2 separate regions of the Homo sapiens genome follow, and region 1 is linked to region 2. A link means that fine-mapping ties the variant in region 2 to the expression of a gene that starts in the linked region. Tissue or cell type: whole blood. Region 2 holds a variant in brackets; the other region holds the start of a gene. All regions are shown on one strand. Distances are between the middles of the regions.

What was found. PIP is the estimated chance that this variant, and not a neighbour inherited with it, causes the effect.
Region 1: it holds the start of ALDH8A1, and the variant in region 2 is fine-mapped to the expression of ALDH8A1 in whole blood (INTERVAL, PIP above 0.99).

Annotation. Positions count from the first base shown.
Region 1 is chr6:134,945,418-134,953,077 of GRCh38, forward strand. ALDH8A1 (aldehyde dehydrogenase 8 family member A1) reads right to left here and starts at 4,684. Exons shown (of 7, transcript NM_022568.4): 1 at 4,499-4,684. The coding sequence starts at 4,636.
Region 2 is chr6:135,058,458-135,066,117 of GRCh38, forward strand. LOC124901405 (a long non-coding RNA gene) reads left to right here. Exons shown (of 2, transcript XR_007059775.1): 2 at 1,758-2,889. LOC124901406 (a long non-coding RNA gene) reads right to left here and starts at 279. Exons shown (of 2, transcript XR_007059776.1): 1 at 162-279. The variant G/A (reference allele first, on the strand shown) is at 4,168.

The DNA of each region.
Region 1 (7,660 bases), 110 kb before region 2:
TTTTAGAGTTACATACAAAAGGAAACAATATATGTATGGGAAGGTATGGGCAGGGTCAACTCATGGCCAAAATGTTATGTAGACAAAATAATTTTCAAGTCCTCTTCTGCCTTTCTCTTCTCTCCGGCAATGTCTAAGTAATGCCTTCTCCAGAGATGACAAATCCCTAACCCATGTCTCACTCCTCTCCTTTCTCACATGCATGAAAAATTATTATAATCACAGCTGTCTTCCACCACCGGGCCCTGGCTCAGACTCAGAATCCTTTTCCATAGGCTTCTGGCAGCCGTGAGCATCTTTTTTGGGGCGCTTGACCCGAAGTAATCTAGCCGCCTGAGCCTGTGCTAGCCCTCATGCAAAACCTGACCCACACCCCTCCTTCATTTCCCTCATGCAAAGTGACTGATATGGCTAGGTTTTGTGTCTCAACCCAAATCTCATCTTGAATTGTAATCCCCCTGTGTTGAGGGAGGAAAGTGATTGGTTTGTGGGGGCTATTTTCATGATAGTGAGTGAATTCTCGTGAGATCTAATGGTTTTATAAATGGTAGTTTTTCTTGGCCTTCACACGCTGTCTCGCCTGCCGCCAGACATGCCTGCTTCCTCTTCAGCCATGATTGTAAGTTTCCTGAGGCCTCCCCAGCCATGCAGGACTGAGTCAATTAAACCTCTTTCCTTAATAAATTACCCAGTCTCAGGTATTATCTTTATAGCAGTGTTAGAACGAACTAATACAGTCACTTTTAGCTGAGCTGAAGTAAGGTATAAAATGATTCTCATCTTAATTAGAAATTTCTAGAAATATGGTGGCTTCACCTCAAAAACTAAATCTTGAATGTGGACCTGCAGACAGGATAGGGGAAGAGATGGCTTTGGTGACCTCCACCACCAGCTGCAGCCATGAGGAAGCCCCACTGCCAGCCAGCAAGAGGAGCATGAATTCCTACAGTCAATGTAAAAATCTGGTCTTTTTGCTATTCAGAAAATTCAAGTCCACTCATATTTTCTAAGTTGCCTTATAGCACAACTTATGTCCATGTAATATAGAATACATATTAATGTACTACATACAATAATATTAGCATAAGTTAATACATAGAAAGCATTTACTATATGCCAAGCACTAAGGGCTTTAAGCATATTAGTCAGTTTAATCCTCAGAATAACACTATAAAGTAGATATCATTATTATCCTCATTTTATAGATGAGGAGACTGAGGCATGCAAAAGTTCAGCTCTAAGTCAAAGCCATAGATACCAAGTGGTGCAGCTTGTATTTGAACCAGGCAGTCTGACTCTAGTATGTGCTTATAACTGCAATGCTATAATGCAAATGTGCTATGCACACAGGTGCGCATGTGTGCGCGCGCGCACAGGTGCGCATGTGTGCGTGCACGCACAGGTGCACATGCCCATGGATCTAAGCATCAGAGATGAGAGTGTTAGTACTGTCCTCTGTAAAATAAGGATCATAATAGAGACTTCTAAGTTGTTACAACTCGCTTCTTTGGATAATCTATATTAAAGGGCTTACTGATTGCACACTACCAGACTTTAAAATATACTACAAAGCTATAGTAACCAAAGTAGCATGGCACTGGTGTAAAAACAGACACATAGACCAGTGAAACAGAATAGAGAATCCAGAAATAAATCCATGCATTTACAGCCAACTCGTTTTTTACAAAGCTGCCAAAAATATGCATTGGTGAAAACATAGTCTCTCCAATAAATGGTGCTGGGAAAACTGGATAACCATATGCAGAAGAATGAAACTAGACCCCTATCTCTCACCAAAACAAATCAAAACAGATTAAAGACTTAGATAGATGTAAGACCCAAAACTATGAAACTACTATAAGAAAACATAGGGTAAATACTTCATGACACTGATTTGGGCAAAGATTTTTTTGGGCAAGACCTCAAAAGCACAGGCAACAAAAGAAAATAAATAAACAAAATAAAATAATATCAAGCTAAAAAGCTTCTGCACAACAGAAGAAACAGCAGAGTTAAGAGGCAACCTACAGAATGGGAGAAAATATTTGCAAACTATCCATCTGACAAGGGATTAATAACCAGAATATATAAGGAGCTTGAGCTTGTATATATACATATACAACTCAATAGCCACCGCCCAAAAAATCCAATTTAAAAACGGGCAAATGATCTAAAGAGATATTCCACAAAAAGAAGATGTACAAATGGCCAACAGGTATATAAAAAATGCTTAACATCACTAATTATTAGGGAAATGCAAGTCAAAACCACAACGAGTTATTATCTCATCCCAGTTAAAATGGTCATTATCAAAAAATAAGAAATAAAAAAGGCTGGTGAAGCTGCAAAAAAAAAGGGAAGACAAATACAGTGTTGGTGGGAAAGTAAATTAGTGCAGCCATTATGGAAAACGCATGTAGGTTTCTCAAAAAAAAAAAAATAAAAATAGAACAACAGTATGATCCAGCAATCCCACTACTGGAAATTTATCCAAAGAAAAGGAAATCAGTATACTGAAGAGATACCTGTACCCCCATATTTGTTGAAGCACTATTTACAATAGTCAAGATATGGACTCAACCTAATGTCCATCAACAGCTGAATGGATAAAGAAAATATGGTATATATACACAATGGAATATTATTCAGCCATAAAAAGGAACAAAATCCTGTCATTTGCACCAACACGATTTGAGCTGGAGGATATTACGTTAAGTGAAGTAAGCAAGGCACAAAAATACAAATATTACATGTTCTCACTCATATGTGGAAGCTTAAAAAAGTTGATCTCATGGAGGTAGAGAGTACAATTATGGTTACCAGAGGCTGGGAAGGGTAGAGGAGAGGATAGAGGTTGGCTAATTAATACAAAAATATGGTTAAAAGGAATAAGTTCTAGTAGAGTGACAATAGTTAACAATAATTTATTGTATATTTCACAATAGTTAGAAGAAAAGATTTGGAATGTTCCCAACACCAAGAAATGATAAATGTTTAATGTGATGGAGATCCTAATTACCCTGATTTGATCATGACACATTGTATGCATGTATCAAAATGTCACATATGCCCATAAAGATGTACAATTATTATGTATCAATTTTTTAATTTTTTGTTAAAAAAGGGCTTAATGACTGCAAAGCACAAAGCAAAAGTTGAATAAACGGGAGCCACTGTTAGCAGCACCAGCAACATTTTCCTGAGTGATGTTTTGGAAATTGGACATGCAGTTTGTATGGTAACCATATTTTTCAAGCCGGAAAAAACTATGACTTATGGGATCAGATAGGATATTTGGAAGTTGGATTGCTGAGAAACTGAACATATCTATTACTCTACTAGCTAGCGCATCCATAGCTCATTCTATTTTCTAAAAAGTTATGAGCCATTAGCTGCAGGAAATATTTCAGCTGAATTTGGCATGTTTGTCATTTTTAACTTCACTTTGGCAAACAAGGAAGAGTGGAAAACACAAAGCTGGATTTCCCAGAGCTGTGTTAAGTCATTTGAAGCAAACAAAATTGCAGTTTATAATTTAACCAATGCATTAACCAACATTTGCAAACATTAATCCCTAAGTCTGAAGGTTTACTTTAAATGCAAGACAGATTTGAAGTATTAACAAAAAAGAAAAAAAATAGCAATGTTCTTAAAAAAAAACTTTGCATGGAATATATATTTTTATAGGAAGACTATATTTTAAATAATCTAGTTATTTGTGCCTTAAAAAGAATAAATTATAATTCATAAGGCATTAGATGACTATATATACATCAGCTACATTTACCACTTCAGATATATTTACATTCTCAGTGCAATAATTGATAGCTAATCAAATATATCTCAAATATTTTACAAAATTCTCCAAGTAAAATTAATTCTACATCACCAAAAAAATGTAATGCATATGCCATTAAACACTTTGGATAAGAAAAAAGACGCTGTTAAATCTAACTCCAAAAATATATGGGAATTTGATTTTGAGTTTCATCATTCAAATGATTGATTTTATTTTACTAGGTATTTTGAAGACATGACAAATTATGAGAAGACAATCTAAAACAAAGCCCACAGTTTTTTGCTTGTTTGTTTATTTTAGTAAAGCTATACTTTTTTTTTAATTCCATGGATATAGTGGTAAATTTAAGCAGTGCGTGGTGGAGAAAAGGGAATATTTAACAAAGTGATAGCTCTTACAAATAATACTTTGTACTAGACACTGATTAGGAAATGTTTGAGAATTGCAAAAAAAAACTGCACACAGGGCTGTGTTAGGTTGGCTAGAAAAATGACTTACTTTCTGCATATAGGAAGAGATTTGTTCTAGGTATCATACAGTCCAGTTACAAGGTACATCTTCTGAGAACTAGAATCTTCCTTCTATCATGTTTAACAATCCTACATCTTCCCCCAACTCCCTCTGCTTTTAGAAAACTGTTACCCATAATTGGCCAACATATTAAACACATTTCAGTCTTCTTTAAGTGCATATACTCACCTCGTCTTTTCCACTATTTGGCACTCTGCAATACACTTCCCCTGTTGATGGGTCGTAAGAATCTATATATGAGCTACAAGGTAAAAATTTTCCATCTATGAAGTTTTCCAGCATCAAAAGTGCGTTTGTTCCAGCCATAGCAAGGAAAAATTCTGCCTTTCCTCTTTACGACTGAGCACTCAGGTTGTCCCCACCACTGTCTGGACTCCTGAGTGAGCCTCCCCCTTCCCAGCCCCCATCTTCCCCTTTACCAATCAGTGAATGTGGGAGGGCACCTGACGCTCTCAGAGAGCATTCCAGTCTCCAAACTCAGAACTAAGAGAGTGGCTGAATGTTTCACAGACTTCTAGTACATTACCTGACATGGATAATTGTGTGTAAAAGTAACAGCTACTTACTTATGTGTTCATAGCCCTTTAAATCATCAGAAGGCATCTGTGCATGTGATTTTATTGGGTTCACACCGTAAACTGTTCATTGCTCAAACACTGATTGGATGCCAGGCCCCAAAGCAAGTCCTTTACATGAATTTACTCGTTTATTCCACACAACAATCCTATATGAAGTAACCATTACTTCCTCTCTTTTATAGAAGAAACTGAGCCTTGGAGAGGTTAGACCATTTTTCCAAGGTCACATAGTTAGCAGGGGATGAACTGTAGCCCTTTAATCTCCAAATCATATACTTTTTCCTCAATGCATCACTGCTTACCCTGCAGAGGTAACTGAAGACAGATGCCCTCTTTCCGTGGCTCATCTGTGTTTCTTTACCTTGGCTGCCCTCTCTTGGAAGAGCTGTCTCTCCATCCCAAAACCGGGGCCACAGTGGCTGCTCACATCTTCCTAGATGTGCCATGGAGATAAAGACAAGCCAAAAACATGTGTGACACATATAGCAAGGGCTTCAGATCCCTGATGTAGCTGAGAATTTCTACAAATTGGTAAGAGAAATGAGCACCCCAACAGAAAAGATAAGCAAAGATACAAAAAAGCAATCCATAGGAAAAGGAACACAATTGGCTAATGAATATATTAACAATGTTCAGCCTTGTTGTTAAGCAAGGAATGTGAAATACAGAGGTGGCCTGATTTGCCAATCATACTGGAGAGCATTTTTAAAGATTGAGAACATCTACTCTGTGAGGATGTGGAGAATCATCCCTAGTCCATAGGCGGGAGGGTTCACAGAACACTGCTTGGGGCAATTTGTCAGGGTCTGGTCAATTTCTCTTCTAGGAATCTCTCCTACAGAATTACGTGCTCATGAACAAGTACATAAGTCACAGGACATCCTTTTTTATCATAATTTAAAAATCAAAACAACCTAAAGTCCATCAATTGGAGAATATTAGAGTATAATTGTTATATTCTTAACAGGGAATACTACTTAGACATTAGAAGGATGCATTGTTAAGTGAAAAAATAAAACTAGTGAATAATATATACAGCATAGTTTCTTTGGCTATTTACATGGTTGACAGGAAGCCGTTTTAAACTGCTTGGATATTTTATGGCAAGCCTATATTACTTTTATAATTATGATTTATAGTTATAATTCAGTTGAAGGTTAGGTACCAATATTCTAAAATTCATTGATCACATGAGGGCACTTGCTGGCCGTGCACCTCCTTAGGCCCTCTCTGCTTCCATCTTTATTGGTCTCTAGATATTCTCCAAAATTCTTGCTGAGACTTCTGACAAGCATGGTGTGGCTGATTCTGGGAGGCCCAGAGCAGCTGGAGTCTGGAGCTGGCGCCGTTGCCTGTCGCTGGAGAGTCGCTGACAGGGACTGGAGACAGAAGGTAGTCTCAGGCTTTTTCTGGTGCTGCCCACGGTCAGGTCAGCTGGAAACAGAATGAGAGAAATACGCAGGTCCCAGCCCTGGCACCACAGAGTGAAGTACCAAGAAGTGAGCTTGGTGCTGAGAGACAGTGAGTACCACCCGGTGTGTGCATAAAGACTTCTGTAGCCCATCTTCCTGGGTCTCCAACAACTCTGCCTAATGTTGATGGACTCATCAGAATGTTTGTCTTTTTGTACAGAGTGCAAAAGATTCTAATGGGAGGACTATGGAAGGGAGATCTTTTTGAAGAAAGGACTTTACCCAGGATAGCATGAGAGAGGAATTTTCTGCCACGTGACAGTAGAAGAGGACAGAAGCCGGACACGGTGCTTCTAAAGAGTGCCTGGTGCTGATCAGAACTCCCCACACAAGATCAGTCCCAGTGGCAGAGCAGGCGTGTCTGTCAGTTACAGTGGCCTCCTTGTGCCATTTTCTTGTGCCATTGGCTGCTCAAGCTGGGCCTTCGCTGGTTTTTCTTTTTCTTTTTTTTTTTTTGAGACAGAGTTTCACTCTTGTTGCCCGGGCTGGAGTGCAATGGCATGATCTCAGCTCACAGCAACCTCTGCTTCCTGGGTTCAAGCAATTCTCCTGCCTCAGCCTCCCAAGTAGCTGGGATTACAGGTATGTGCCACCACGCCTGGCTAATTTTGTATTTTTAGTAGAGACGGGGTTTCACCATGTTGGTCAGGCTGTTCTCAAACTCCTGACCTCAAGTGATCCGCCCTCCTCAGCCTCCCAAAGTGCTGGGATTACAGGCGTGAGCCACTGTGCCTGGCCTCGCTGGTTTTTCATAATGTACTTGGCCTTCCCCCACTTCCCCCTGTCAGCCCTTTTCTGTCCACAGTGCAACCATTTGATCCCCACCTGCAGGTCAACCACAGAGATGACTCTGGAATCAGAGCTCAGCTGAGCTGGGAGACTTTCATCCTGGAGGACAGAGCATGGGCCTCATTCAGAGTCTGGTCATGTCAGTTGACCCCAGTCCTGATACCTGAGCTCTGACATGCCTTCAAGGCCTTTTCTCTAAGTTGGCACCAACGTTTCTCCTGTCGGTTTCCCTTGAAGAGACATGAAATCCTATATCTGGGCCTAGTGGCTGAGAACCTACTTCTAGGTAGTTCTACCTGCTTCACTGGACATGTGGGTATCACCTGCTCCTGAATTATTCTGGCTGGCTCCATCTGCTCGCCAGTGTGTCCTGCTGAATGCAGATCTGTTCTTACCACATCCCTGTAACAGCATTCTGACCCATGGGTGAAACGTACTCCCATTTGCGGTCACAGAATCCACCCCCCACCACATCCCAAGGGGTGGATTCA
Region 2 (7,660 bases):
TTACGGCCGGGCGCGGTGGCTCATGCATGTAAATCCCAGCACTTTGGGAGGCCAAGATGGGCGGAGCACAAGGTCAGGAGTTTGACACCAGCCTGGTCAACATGGTGAAACCCCATCTCTATTAAAAATACAAAAAACTAGCCGGGTGTGGTGGCACGCACCTGCAATCCCAGCTACTCGGGAGGCTGAGGCGGGAGAATTGCTTGAACCCGGGAGGTGGAGGTCTCAGTGAGCCGAGATCACGCCACTGCACTCCAGCCTGGGCGACAGAGCAAAACTCTGTGTAAAAAAAATAAAATTAAAAAAAGTCAAAATGATAGTTACTTTTGAAGTAGATATTAATGGAGTCAGGAAAGAGAGAATTAAAGGGAGCTTTCAGAGGTGCTGGAGATGTTCTATATATTGATCTGGGTTAGGATTATAAGGTTTTATACATGTATACAATTTTATTTTACTGTACATTTAAAATTTATGCACCTTTCAGTAATAAGTTATACCTCAATTTAAAAACCAAATTAAAAAATGCAAAAATTTATTAAATGGAATTTTCATTCCTGTCTTTAATATATACATATATGTCAGATGTTTCCTTTATGCCTCATAGTGTTGTTTTATTTATTTATTTTATTTTATTTGTATTGACAAGTTCTCACTATGTTCCCCAGGCTGGTCTCAAACTCCTGAGCTCAAGCCATCCTCCCACCTCCACCTCCCAAAGTGCTGGGATTACAAGCATGAGCCACCATGCCCAGCATATAGTGTCCTGTTTTAAAGATCTAAGCACTGTGATACATCTGAGTTAGAATTTACTTAACAATATATCAGTATTTCTCAGAGTATAGTCTGTTCTTCATCCTGTATTTGAAACTAAACAATTACTCATCCATTTACACTTAAAATTTTCTGTTGTTCCTGAAATAACACTGTCCTTGTTAGCTACTTAAATACTCATATGAGGTTTGGTAAATAAATTATAGTGACGCTTCTACTCCATAACTATTAAAAAGAAATGAAGGAATTGATCTTAGTCATTAAGAAAGGAAGAATAAGGCTGGGCGCGGTGGCTCACGCCTGTAATCCCAGCACTTGGGAAGGCTAAGGCGGGCAGTTCAAGACCAGCCTGGCCAACATGGTGAAACCATGTCTCTACTAAAAATACAAAAACTAGCCAGGCGTGGTGCCGGGAGCCTGTAATCCCAGCTACTTGGGAGGCTGAGGTGGGAGAATCAGTTGAACCTAGGAGGCAGAGGTTGCAGCGAGCCAAGATCGTGCTACTGTACTCCAGCCTAGGTGACAGAGCAAGACACCATCTCCAAAAAAGAATGGGAGGGATGGAGGATAGTTATAATTGTGACATTAGACATGGTATATAAGAAAAGTTCTAGAATTTTCTAGTTAAGTGTCTAGGAAAGTAGGGCCTATGCTACAAACTAGAAAATGTCATGGGTGTGTGGGAAGATCCTTTGGGGTCCTTTGCAGTTTTGCAATTGTTTTGAGGACTTGTGAATTATACTTGTTATTATATGTTAATAATGTAAATCTGCTCATCTTGATTATTGTCACCAAATATCTGTAAAATTTATAAACAGATGTATTTATTTTCCTGTTGATATGCCGAATTACTTCTATAACCCTCTGTCTCAACGAATGATATTCTTACCTTCCTATTTGCAATTCCCCCTGACTACTTTCCTCACATATTGTTCTCTCTTTCTCTCTCTCTCTCCCCCACTCCCTGCCCCTTTGTTTCTTGACAGAAATCCAGCTAAGTAAAAATTGGCAAGATCCTGTGACAAGATCCTGTGACAAGATCCTGTGATCAAGACAAAGTTTTGCCCCCAAAGGACTTGAGGCTATCTGGGAATTCCATGTTTGACAGAAGCGCTGACAGCATAACCAAGCAAACAAGAAGGTATTCAGGGACGCTGAAACGGATCTTCAAAGAAGACTCAGTGGGTGATTTTTAATTTCTGTGTAGTATTATAGAGCTTAATGCAGAACATACCAAAACCTTGGAGAGGTAATGATAGGGTCATGCATTTCATAAGGCAGAGTAATGCCCTGCAACAACAAAATAAAGTCAAAGAGTTCTACACTGAGCCATGAACCACTAAATGGGGAATACCAACAAAATAACACCACCTGGGTGAAATCTGCTTCCTGCGTAGATAGGTTCTTTCAACCACCAACCCTAGGCTTTCCAGCTGTCAAGCACTTAATCATGAAATATAATAATAAAGATGTTTCAGGAGTTCCTTATGATACTTATTCAAAAGTTCATATTGTTCTAAACTCTCTAATAATAATCAGTTCTCCAGGTTAAACATCTTTCAATGGAAGCACATTATTTACAAACTCAGTCCAAACCCTTAGAAGGACATAGGAGTTCCACTATGATGTCAATGCTGCCTGGTTTGCCACCTCACCTGCCACCTCTCTACCACCAGACGTGGGGCACTCTACATCAGCTCCTACTTTTATGGTTCCAAGTCCAGCCATGGTCTTCCTGACTCGGGACATTCACACATACTAATTCTTCTGCTTAGAATGCCCATCTGTCCCCATTCCCTCTTTATTGCTCAGCAAAGCCCAGTTTCCATCACACATTCTGCGACACCTTCCTTGACTCTGCAGAATAAGTGTCCCTCCTGTGTGCCTTAAAGCACAGTATTTGTTTCTGCTACAACACACATTAATAATATTCTAATTGTCTATGTTTTCTTCTACCCCTCTCCACTTCCCCAGTTAGATGTAAATTCCTTAAAGGCAGGGACACTCTAGTTTATTTTATATCTCTTGCATCCAGTGTAGTGGCTGGTACAAAACTAGAATAAATAAAATAAATGTTATTGAATTATTGTTGAATAAAGTTATAACATGAAAAATAAATATATTTGTAAGAAGTTCATTACTTTGGAGACCAATATCAGTAATATTCTGGAGAAGGACACCATCTGCAAGGAATGAGAGAGTGCAAGAGAGTGCGTAATATGGCAGTGAGAGCTATAAGTAGAAATTTCTAGATTTAAAGGTATCTTTTGTATATACCCCCCAAAAATGAAAACTTATGTCCACATACAGACTTGTACATGAATGTTCATAACAGCATATTCATAGGAGTCAAAAGTAGAAACAACTGAAATGTCCATTAACAGATGAATGGAAAAATAAAATGTGGGCTATTCACAGAGTACACTATTATACAACAATAAAAAGAAGTGAAGTACTGATAATAAGCTTCAACATGGATGAACCGGAAAACATTACATGAAGTGAAAGAAGCCCCTCTTCTGAGTTGGGTGGGAATACTTCAGTGAAAAATGAGATACTTATTTTCTGGATTCATCCTGGTCTGAATCCAGGCTTGCCAAATATACCTTGTTATTGTATGCACAACCAAAAGAAATACACATTTCATGATTCTATTTACTTGAAATTTCCAGCACAGGCAAGTCTATAGAGTCAGAAAGTAGGTTAGTAGTTGCTTAGGGATGGGGAGGTTGGGGGAAATGAGGAGTGACTGCTAATGGACAGGGGCGTTTCCTTATGGGGTGATGGAAATGGTCTAAGATTGGGGGTGTTGACGGTTGTGCAACTCGGTAAATATACAAAAAAAAACACTTAAAAAACTGTACACTTTAAATGGGTAATTTTTTTTAAGACAGGGTTTCATTCTGTCACCCACTCTGTCATGCCACCATGCCCAGCTAATTTTTTTTTTATTTTTGTAGTAATGGGGTTTTGCCATGTTGCCCAGGCTGGTCTCAAACTCCTGAGCTCAAGCAATCCACCTGCCTCAGCCTCCCAAAGTGCTGGGATTACCGGCATGAGCCTCCGTGCCCAGCCTAAATGGGTAAATTCTGATATAGGAGTTAAGAAGAAATTACTGGGCCAGGTGCAGTGGCTAATGCCTGTAAAGTCCCAGCACTTTGGGAGGCTGAGGAGAGTAGATCACCTTAGGTCAGGAGTTTGAGAAACTCCGTCTCTACTAAAAATACAAAAATTAGTTGGGAATGGTGGCATGTGTCTGTAATCCCAGCTACTCGGGAGACTGAGGCAGGAGAATTGCTTGAACCTGGGAGGCGGGGATTGCCGTGAACCAAGATCACGCCACTGCACTCCAGCCTGGGCGACAGAGCCAGACTCCGTCTCAAAAAAAAAAAAAAA[G/A]AAAGAAAAGAAATTACTTAGACAGATAGTGAGGGTATAGAAGACCTCGGTAAGGTTTTCCTTTAAATGAAAAGCAGCCCCAAGTCATTTTGCTTACTAACAAAGAGCAGCCTGTAAAATCGAGCTGCAGACATACAAGCTGGCAGTTGTTGTCAATTGTGTTCAAAATGGCGACTCCATCTTCCCTTCTTGGCCAGCCAGGTGTACAGGAAGGAGCAAACAAAGTGGCACCGGACAAGGGGAAAGTTCATTTGCATAATAAGATTAGGGTGGGGCGGCCAGCCTTCTCCTGAGCTATGTAAACCTAGTACCTGATTCAACCAATCTGTGAGCCCTATATAAATCCGACACCACTTCCTCCAGCCTGACTATAAAATCTGGCGCATCCACCAGCTGGTTCTTTCCTCTCAGAAGTCCCTTCTCTCTCACTAGAGAGAGCTATTTTCCTTTATCTTTCTTTTGCCTGTTAAACCTCTACTCCTTAACTCCTCAGGTGTGTCCGTGTCCTTAATTTTCGTGGCACGAGATGATGAACCCCAGGTATTTACCCCAGACAAGGTAGCTGCTTCAATTCTATGGTGTTAATTATATATCAATATAGCTCTAATTTTTTTAAAGAGTCTCTTTCAGTGAAACAATCTGTTTTAGATGTTCAATCTTTTTTTTTTTTTTTTTTTTTTGAGACGGAGTCTCACTCTGTCACCCAGGCTGGAATGCAGTGGCCGATCTCGGCTCACTGCAACCTCTGCCTTCCGGGTTCAAGCGATCCTCCTGCCTCAGTCTCCAGAGTAGCTGGGACTACAGGCGCGTGCCACCACCCCCATCTAATTTTTGTACTTTTAGTAGAGATGGGGTTTCACCCTGTTGGCTAGGGTGGTCTCAAACTCTTGACCTCAGGTGATCCACCCACCTCTGCCTCCCAAAGTGCTGGGATTACAGGTGTGAGCCACTGCACCTGGGCGGTATTCAGTCAATTTGAAAGCAGAGAGCCACCTGAGAAACATGGGTGCAATGAGAAGCTTCTGTAACTTCTGTAACTTGGAGGCAGAGAAGGAGAAAGGTCTGGCACAATGGCAATTTCTGTAATGATTATAAGCCACTTGGGCAAAAAGCTCTGTTCTGCAATTTACCAAATGTGTAATCTTTTTTTTTTGAGACAAGGTCTTGCTCTGATGCCCAGGCTGGAGTACAGTGGCACAGTCTCGGCTCACTGCGGCCTCAATCTCCCAGGCTCAAGTGCTCCTCTTTCCTCAACCTCTCAGCGTAGCTGGTATAAACCAAAAATTTCTAAGGCCCCTCAGTCATCTGAATGGACCCTTTCTCTTGGCCAACGGCATTACAGAGTTAACATGAAAATCTAATTCTGGCCGTGATGGAAGAGGGTGTTGGATATGCCTCATTATACCCCTCCAGCATTAACTTCAACACAGACCTTAAGTGTGACAAGAAACATTTATAGTCTGCCCTCTTTGAAGCCTGCTCCTGGGAGGCTTCATCTGCATGATAAAATCTTGGTCTCCACAATCCCTTATTGTGAGCCAGACATTCCTTACTACTGATAATAACTTTTTCAACCAATTGCTAATTAGAAAATTTTTTAATCTACCTATGACCTGAAGACCCCCAACTTGACATTGTCCCGCCCTTCCAGATAGAAGCAATGTAAATCTTACATGTATTAATTGATGTGTTATGTCTCCCTAAAATGTATAAAAGCAAGCTGTACCCGAACACCTTGGGCATGTGTCTTCAGTACCTCCTGAGGCTGTGTTATGAGTGCATTCTTAACCTTGGCAAAATAAGCTTTCTAAATTGAGACCTGTCTCAGATACTTTTGGGTTCACGCTGGGGCTGCAGGCTCGCTCCATCACACCCTGCTAATTTTCTTTATGTTTAGTAGAGACGAGGTCTTGCTATCTTGCCCAGGCTGGCCTCATACTCCTGGGCTCAAGGGATCCTCCTGCCTAGCCTCTTGAAGTGCTGGGATTACAGGCATGAGCCACTGCATAAACTTGGGCCAAATGCTTCTCATCTCAGGGCCTTAGTTGTCACACTGTAAGATAGAGGATAAAAATTGAACTACTCTAAACAGTTGTGAAGATTTGAATGGCTTAATTCATTAAAGCATCTAGAGCAGCTCTAGGCACATAGAAAGTACTCCAACAATGCTTGTATTCTTCTTTGGCCCCACTGACTTCCACTGCACAGGACAGATTTCATTTGGGTCTTGAAAATTATGAGATGAGGTTGGTCTGGTTTGGTTGCCTGGGTGCTGACATCACTACTGTTGCCCTTGAACTTTATCACTGCATCCGGTGATGAGGCCCTCAGGAGGCCTCCCTGTCTTTATGTCACACCTATTGGGCCAACAAAACATTTAGCATTTTCTTGCCCCTTGGTAGGGCTCATGATTGTCAAGTGTTTTCTCAGCTCTATGCTGCGGCATGCAACACTCAGTGAGACTGCCCTCGGTCACTCCTTTCAGTCCCTAGCCAGGTAATATCACTACCCTCCTGCCCAACTCTCAACACTGCACCATGCCAAGTAGGAGGCTTTTTTGAGGGACTTTCAGCCTTTCCAGGTTATGTTCTCAAGAAATTAGCACAGCTTGGCCAGGCACGGTGGCTCACGCCTGTAATCCCAGCACTTTAGGAGGCCGAGGTGGGTGGATCACCTGAGGTCAGGAGTGCGAGACCAGCTGGCCAACATGATGAAACCCTGTCTCTACTAAAAATACAAAAATTAGCTGGGTGTGGTGATGGGAGCCTGTAATCCCAGCTACTAGGGAGGCTGAGGCAGGAGAATCGCTTGAACCCATGAGGCAGAGGTTGCAGTGAGCGAAGATTGTGCCATTGCACCTGGGCAACAGAGCAAGACTGTCTCAAAAAAAAAAAAAGAAAAAGAAAAGAAAAGAAAAAAAAGAAATTAGCATAGCTCCCAATATTGCTGGATATATCCAGTACATCTGGAAATCTTTAATACAACAGCTTCCATACAGGTTGAAGAGAACTGTCCATTTTGAGTACAGTACTTTAAGAAAGAAAGTTGGGTGGGAATATTTCAAAGATGAAATACTTATTTTCTAGATTCATCCTAGTCTGAATCCAGACTTGCCAATATACCATCTTAGTGTATGCACAATTTCTTCTAGGATTTATAGACTGTCTACCTCTGGGTATCATCTTAGCGCTCCAAGTGTATGTATAATGTAGGGACACATACAGCTTTTCAGCCATGGGAAAGAGGTGTGTCTGCAGTATAAAATGCTGCAAGGCACCAACGGAATGTTAATGACAAATCAAAGGACAGAGCATCTTTAAATCCTAGGGGAAAATTCAAAGCAAAGAAAATTTGCAAATCAAATTTAAACCAGAAAAAAAGCATACACATAAAAGGTAGGGTTTTAAAAGGTAAAAGCGGCTCTCATTAAAAGTCATTTAAAACACTGAACTGTTTGAGGAATTTCCCTTCCTTGCCCTGTCATGCTCTGTTT